2 linked regions of the Homo sapiens genome follow. The protein of the gene in region 1 purifies or fractionates together with the protein of each later gene. This does not show direct contact. Each region holds a gene or a part of one and is shown on either strand. Other genes may lie near its edges. The genes, in order: KGD4 and SPTBN2.

Region 1 (3,814 bases):
AAACACTATAATCCCAAGACCCACGTAAAACAAATAAAAGACTTTTTTTTTTTTTGAGATGGAGTCTCCTCTGTCACCCAGGCTGGAATGTAGTGGCGTAATCTCTGTTCACTGCAACCTCCGCCTCCCAGGTTCAAGCAATTCTCCTGCCTCAGCCTCCTGAGTAGCCAGGATTACAGGCCTGCGCCACCACACCCCGCTAATTTTTGTATTTTTAGTAGATATGGAGTTTCCCCATTTTACCCAGGCTGGTCTTGAACTCCTGACCTCAAATGATCCACCTGCTTCGGCTTCCCAAAGTGCTGGGATTACAGGCATGGGCCACCATGCCCGGCCCAAATTAAAACATTTGATAGCACTTTATTTTAGTCTTTTTCCTATACCCATAGGAATACTTTTTTTTTTTTTTTTTTAGACAGAGTCTTGCTGTGTCACTCAGACTGGAGTACAGTGCCGCAATCATGGCTCACTGCAACCTCCGCCTCAAGGGTTCAAGTGATTCTCCTGCCTCCGCCTCCCAAGTAGCTGGGATTACAGGTGCCCGCCACCACACCCGGCTAATTTTTATATTTTTAGTAGAGACAGGGTTTCACCATGTTGGCCAGGCTGGTTTCGAACGGCCTCCCAAAGTGCTGGGATTACAGGCGTGAGCCACCATGCCTGGCCTGGAATACATATTTTTGGAATACTGTTTTTGGAACAGATGTTTGAAAAGTATTAACATTTTTGTCCGTAAAATTCCAGATAGTGGTACAGAGGACCTTAAATGGACCTGTCAATATGAAATCTTCTGAATATACAATGCTAAGAATCTAATGAACAAAGTACTATTTTCAACTAATCTATAAATTGCTATGTAACGAATAAGACTGAGGTGGGTTTATCTGCAATATATTTATATATTTGTAGTACATATTATGCATTTTATGTGGGCACAGAAGCAAATAGGTATGGGATTGGCCTAAAAATTCACCACTGTAATTCTGTGGCTGTGAGAAAATGCTGGAATGTGTTCTCTCCCTCACCATAAAATCATGCTCAAGTCTTCCATGCTAAAAAACTTCTCGGCCGGGCATGGTGGCTCACACCTGTAATGCCAGCACTTTGAGAGGCCGAGGTGGGTGGATCATGAGGTCAGGAGATCGAGACCATTCTGGCTAACACGGAGAAACCCCGTCTCTACTAAAAATACAAAAAAAGTAGCCAGGCGTGGTGGCACACACCTGTAGTCCCAGGTACTCGGGAGGCTGAGGCAGGAGAATCGCTTGAACCTGGGAGGCAGAGGTTGCAGTGAGCCGAGATTGTGCCACTGCACTCCAGCCTAGGTGAAAGAGCAAGACTTTGTCTCAAAAAAAAAAAAAAAAAAAAAAGCTGCGCACCGTGACTCACGCCTGTCATCCCAGCACTTTGAGAGGCCAAGGCGGGTGGATCATGAGGTCACGAATTCAAGACCAGCCTGGCCAAGACGGTGAAACCCTGTCTCTACTAAAAAAATAAAAAAATTAGCCGGGCGTGGTGGTGGGCGCCTGTAATCCCAGCTACTCGGGAGGCTAAGGCAGAAAATTGCTTGAACCCTGGAGTGGAAGTCCGAGATCGAGCCACTGCACTCCAGCCTGAGTGACAGAGAGAGGCTCTGTCTCAAAAAAAAAAACTTCTCTATTAACTGTTTCTTCACTTTCATAGCCAAGCTTCTTAAGAGAATGTTCTATCTATCCTATCATCACTCCCCTATTTAGAAGTTTGAAAACTGGCTGAGGTCAGTGGCTCATGCCTGTAATCCCAGCACTTTGGGAAGACGGCTTGAGCCCAGGAGTTTGAGACCAGCCTGAGCAAGAAGATGAGACTCCCTCTCTACAACTTAAAAGAAGAAAAAAAAGAAGTTTGAAAAATGTTCCACAGCTTTCAGGATAAAGTTCAAACTCTTCTTTGGCACTCACAACACCCATTGTGATCTGGCCTCTCCCTACTTTGCCAGCCTTTCTCCCCTACTGTCTTATGTACCCATTGCTCCAAGTATTCTGAAGTATTTTTCCTTTCCCCAATTCATCCTATTTATCCTCATTCCATCTACAGCTTACGTCCTCTGCCATGAAATCTCCCTCCTATCCCATTCCACTTCCATGCCTATCCTTCTGACTGCTTATCCTTTACAACAGCTCAAATGTCACTCTTCTCTAAGAACCTTTCCCAAATTCCAAAGTCTGAGTTAAAAACTCTCCTTATGTTTTCAGAGGACAGATAAGTTAGCCAATGATTATAGAAGAGCACTAAGCTCCTGGACAGTCAGAGACAGAAAACTAAGCACTTCTGCAGTAGCATTCCTGTTACATGGTAAATGCCCAAGTAACAGTTGCCAAATACGTGAATAAACCATTTGTAAGTTAGGTCTAACTGTATAGGCATGTAAATATGTATTATATACTTATACAAATGTACTTTTAATAGATATGGGGTTTTGCCATGTTGGCCAGGCTGGTCTCGAACTCCTGACCTCAGGTGATCTGCCCGCCTTGGTCTCCCAAAGTGCTGGGATTACAGGCATGAGTCACCGTGCCCAGCCTTATGTTTTCTATAATAGTCTTTTATCAGATATGTCTTTTGAAAGTATTTTCTCCCAATATGTGGCTTGCCTTTTTTTGACAGTGTCTCACAGAGCAGAATTTTTTATTTTAATGAAGTCCAGCTTATCAATTAATTTTTCATGGATCATGCCTTTGGTGTTATATCTAAAAAGTCATTCCTAAACCTAAGGTTATTTTTATTTTCTCCTATGTTATATTCTAAGGGTTTTATAGTTTTGCATTTTGCATTTAGGTCTAGGATCCATTTTGAGTTAATGTTTGTGAAGAACGTGAGGTCTGTGTCTAGATGGATATCCAATTTTTTCAGCACCATGTTGAAAAGACTATCTTTTCTCCATTGTATTCCCTTTGCTCGTTTTGTCAAAGATCAGTTGACTATCTCTTTATTTTTACCTTTCCAAATCTTAGTTTTAGCTATGCCTCTTATAAATAGCATAGCACTGGATTTTCATTTGTTAGCCAGTCTGAAAATGTTTTACTTTATTATTTATTTTTTGAGACCAGGTCTTGCTCTGTTACACAGGCTGGGGTGCAGTGGAGTGATCGTGGTTCACTGCAGCGTCAAACTCCTGGGCTCAAGTGATCTTTCCACCTCAGCCTCCTAAGTAGCTAGGACTACAGGTACACACCCACACACTACCCCTCCTGCCTGGCTAATTTTTTTTTTTTTTTTTAGTATTTATTGATCATTCTTGGGTGTTTCTCGGAGAGGGGGATGTGGCAGGGTCATAGGATAATAGTGGAGAGAAGGTCAGCAGATAAACACGTGAACAAAAAGGTCTCTGGTTTTCCTAGGCAGAGGTCCCTGCGGCCTTCCGCAGTGTTTACGTCCCTGGGTACTTGAGATTAGGGAGTGGTGATGACTCTTAACGAGCATGCTGCCTTCAAGCATCTGTTTAACAAAGCACATCTTGCACCGCCCTTAATCCATTTAACCCTGAGTGGACACAGCACGTTTCAGAGAGCACGGGGTTGGGGGTAAGGTTATAGATTAACAGCATCCCAAGGCAGAAGAATTTTTCTTAGTACAGAACAAAATGGAGTCTCCTGTGTCTACTTCTTTCTACACAGACACAGTAACAATCTGATCTCTCTTTCTTTTCCCCACATTTCCCCCTTTTCTTTTCGACAAAACCGCCATCGTCATCATGGCCCGTTCTCGATGGTTGCTGTCTCTTCAGAGCTGTTGGGTACACCTGCAGAAAGGCTGTCACTTCACACTTGGAAGATTG
Region 2 (3,814 bases), on another chromosome or scaffold:
CCCTTGAGAAAAGGAAAGTGTCTTTTCGTAGACCCTGCAGTGCCTCGCAGACTGTTGAGCACGTACCATGTTCTGTAGGGATACTTGCTGAGCAGATATAAAGCTTTATCTGTCCTTGACTCTTGAGGAACAGCTGGGTGGGAGACCAAGAACCAGGGACGGCAAGACTCGAAAATAAGGATTGGCAGACTACATACAGCCCACGGGGTAATCTGGCCCACTGCCTGTTTTTACAAATAAAGTTTTATTGGGAAACAGCCATGTTCATTCATTCACTTATTCTCTGAGGCTGCTTTTGCACTACAACGACAGAGATGAGTAGTTGTAGTAGAAACTGTTTGGACTGCAAAGCCTCAGATATTGACCATCCAGCCCAAGCCCTTTCCAGACAAGGTTTGCAGAGCCTGCTGAAGAGCACCATCCTGCTTTGAACTCAGGAACAGTTATGGCGTTAAATCCAGGCTGCAGTTTCGCTACCTGCTAATTTGTACTTTATCAAGGTTCTGGACTCACTGTCCCACTCTTTGTCTCCAACAAAGACGTTTGTTTCCCAGAGGCCATAACTTTCCACCATGGAGCTGTGGCACCAGAACCCCACAATCTCTAACCATGACAAAAACCACGTCCTGGAGCCAGGCCCTCCCCCGTACCATGGGGGACTCTGCCCAGAGGCAGCCCCCACAGCACTGCTCACCTTGTCCACCTTGTCCAGCCAGTCTTTGTTGGCAGCCAGCTCGGCCATGAATGCCTGGTGCTTCTGCCACTTAGTATGCAGGTTGCGGGCCTCGTCATAGGACACGTCCTGGGCTGTCAGCATCTTCTCGTCGATCCAGAGCTTCAGCTGGACCAAACATAAAACAGGGACATTTCCAAGGGAGGGGAGAGGGGGGCATAAAAGCAGGGCCACAGTGAGCCAGGAGAAGTGGGCGCCTTGGGAAGAAGCCATGAAGGGGCTCACAGTCTCCGGTACCTTGTGCTGGACTTATTCTAGGCTCAAGGTGAGAAAGGGATGGCTAGGGAATATCCCGGGGCCCCAGGGAGCCTCACCTCGTGACAATCTTGCAGGAAATGCTGCTGCTCCCGGTTGTCCCGAAGACGGCCCAGAAATTGCTGCGCTGCGTCTTGATTCTTCTTGTGCCTGGAACGACACCCTCTTGTGAAACTCTGGAATTTGCTGTGAAAGGATTGTGACCCTTTGGCTAACCTAGGGGCCTCCATTTCTTCTAGGGGAATAACGCCTTCCGGGAGCACAATGAGGCTACCCAGGAATCCTGACTTCCTTTTAGCCCTGGTTGGGGGTGGAATCTCCCAGCCCTCTCCAACCACTTAGTTCTTCCCCTCTACTTCTCTGTCAGCTCCTGCCCCATCTGTGGGTTTCCTGTGCCACGTTTATCTTTGAGGTCACCCTGTTTCTCCGATTCCCCCCTGGGAACCCTAATTCATGGACTGTCCTCATCAGACCTCCTCTCAATGGAGTCTGCCTTTTCCCGAATCTTGTCGGCGTGGATGTTGCCTTCAGATACCAGCTGGCGGCCAGCCTCCAGGAGCCCGTGGATCCGTTCCCCATTGGCGTCCATGGTGCTCATGAAGTCCTCCAGTTTTTTAATGGCAGCATCAGCAGCCTGGAGTGTCCCTGGCATCTCCGTGTGAGACAGAACATATTCCTGTGTGGGAGGGATGACATTCAGCTCATTTTCCCCAGCACAATTCACCCCCCTAGGAGGGACCCACCCAGGGGCAAATCTGAGAGGTAGGGACCAACAAGCAGACAGGGAGGGTAGCCCAGAGAGCTCTGAAGACAGGGAGGCTGCCAGCCAGCATGGGAGCCTCAGAAAGTCACAGGGAAGCTGGGTGGGAAGGACCTTCCATTCCCCAGCCCAAATCCTGTTCTATCTCACTTCTAGCTCCTGATTCCATTTAACAGTTACATGACAAACTGGGCTTTCTATTTCTTCTAAAGTCAGTTTTAGTAAATTATATTCACGTCTTTTTCATTCTCATTTTTCCTTCTTTTTTCTTTTTCTTTTTTTTGAGAGAGGGTTTCATTCTGTGGCCCAGGTTGGAGTGCAGTGGCATATCATAGCTCACTGCAGCCTCAAACTCCTGGCTCCAGTGATCCACCAGCCTCAGCCTCCCCAGTAGCTGGAGCTACAGGCATGCACCACCATGTCCAGTTAATTTTTTTTTTTCATAGAGATGGGGGTCTCACTATGTTGCCCAGGCTGGTCTCAAACTCCTGAGCTCAAGTTATTCTCCTGCCTCGGCCTCCCAAAATACTGGGAGTACAAGTGTGAGCCATCCTGTCTGGCTCCCATTTTTCTTTTTAAAAAATTCTTCTATTTTCTTAAAAAAATTTTTTTGTAGAGACAAGGTCTTGCCATGTTGCCCAGGTTGGTCTGGATATTCTCAGCCTCAAGTGATCCTCCTACTTTGGCCTCCCAAAGTGCTGGAATTTCAGGTGTGAACCACTGCGCTGCCCCATTTTGCTAGCATGTCCTTCCTGCCCATCCTGCTCCTTCACATTTCCCCGGGTCCCTACTTTGCTCTTCCTCCTGCTTGGGACTTTGCCCTGGACTTTCACCTGGCTGCTGAGCACGCCCTCAGCCTGACGAGCATCCCGCAGGAATCCCTGGAAGCCGTGGGCCTGGGCCAGGCGACCTTGCCGGCTCTCCCACATTCGGCCCAGCTCCTCCCAGCCAGTTCCCAGGGCCTCCAGTCGCTGTCGTAGGAAGAGGCACTGGGGGTCAGCCTGGTCCCGGGTCACCTCCTCGCCCAGGGCTCGCAGCCGGCTATACTCGCTCTGGGCCCGCTCCACCTCTCCCCGCAGGGCTGCATGTTGGGCCAGGAGGGCCTCTGCCTCAGGCAGGGTGGCCGGCCCTTCTTCAGAGGCCACAGCAGTCTGAGTGCGGCCTAGCCAGGCCTGGAAGTCATCCAAGCTGCGCAAGAAGTCCTGCAGCCGCCGCGCCTCCCCCAGCGACTCTTCTCGACGCCGCATGGTGGCCCTGAGGTCCTCCCAGCCGGTCTGCACCTCTCTCAGCCGGGCGTTGATGGCCACTGCCTGAGCGGGATGGCCGGCAGCCAGGGCATTTGCCTCTCGAGTCAGTTCGCCCACCCGGGCGGCGATGGCCTCCAGGTCCCGCTCCGTGCCGGCCAGCTTGCGCTGCAGGGCCAGCACCCCAGCCAGATCGTTGCCTAGGCCCTGGGTGGACTCGATGACTTTGGTCTTCTCTCTCATCCAGGCCTGGGTCTCCGTGCACTCTAAGTGGTAGTTCTGGATGCTCAGGGCTGAGGTGAGAGCTGCCTTCTTGCCGTCTGCCAGACGCCGAAACTGCTGCCACCTGAGAGCAGGGGGAAGGTTCAGCTTCCTGCCCTGGCCAGGCCTGTTTGGAAGCTTCTTCCCTGCTTCTCTCTCTCTTGGTAGCTCCCCTTCACTCCTCCCTTTCTGGCCAGCAGCCGCTTCAGACCACCTTGACCCCCTCTCTCATCTCTTTCATCCTTTTTCCTTCCCCAACATATTCCAGACTGGTTTGCTTCCTCCTTTGTAGCCACCCTTCCAGGCCCTACAAAACCTGCCTCTCACTGCCATCCCCATTGCTTCATTTTTCTGTCAGTTTCCTGGTCCTGCCCTCCCAAACCCACCTGTGGTTGAGCTGCTCCTGGGTGTTGACAATGCGGTCTTTGCCTGGGGGGTTGGCCTTCAGTAACTGCTCGGCAATGTCATTCACCGCGGTGATTTGTGCTGCAAGGGTGTTCATTTCAGGCTCCAGGGTCTCGAACCTGAGAGGGTGGAAGAGCCAGGCGTGAATTGTGGGAG

What was found.
Region 2: the proteins of KGD4 (region 1) and SPTBN2 purify together in Homo sapiens (affinity purification with mass spectrometry; one large-scale study listed by BioGRID and IntAct). This does not show direct contact.

Annotation. Positions count from the first base shown.
Region 1 is NC_000005.10:69,220,631-69,224,444, reverse strand, and holds part of KGD4 (alpha-ketoglutarate dehydrogenase component 4), read right to left. Parts: intron 1-3,814. UniProt on the Homo sapiens protein: Molecular adapter that is necessary to form a stable 2-oxoglutarate dehydrogenase enzyme complex (OGDHC). Enables the specific recruitment of E3 subunit to E2 subunit in the 2-oxoglutarate dehydrogenase complex (OGDHC).
Region 2 is NC_000011.10:66,697,945-66,701,758, forward strand, and holds part of SPTBN2 (spectrin beta chain, non-erythrocytic 2), read right to left. Parts: intron 3,778-3,814; coding exon 3,640-3,777; intron 3,339-3,639; coding exon 2,582-3,338; intron 1,665-2,581; coding exon 1,462-1,664; intron 1,139-1,461; coding exon 1,048-1,138; intron 842-1,047; coding exon 695-841; intron 225-694; coding exon of another isoform or gene 1-224. UniProt on the Homo sapiens protein: Probably plays an important role in neuronal membrane skeleton.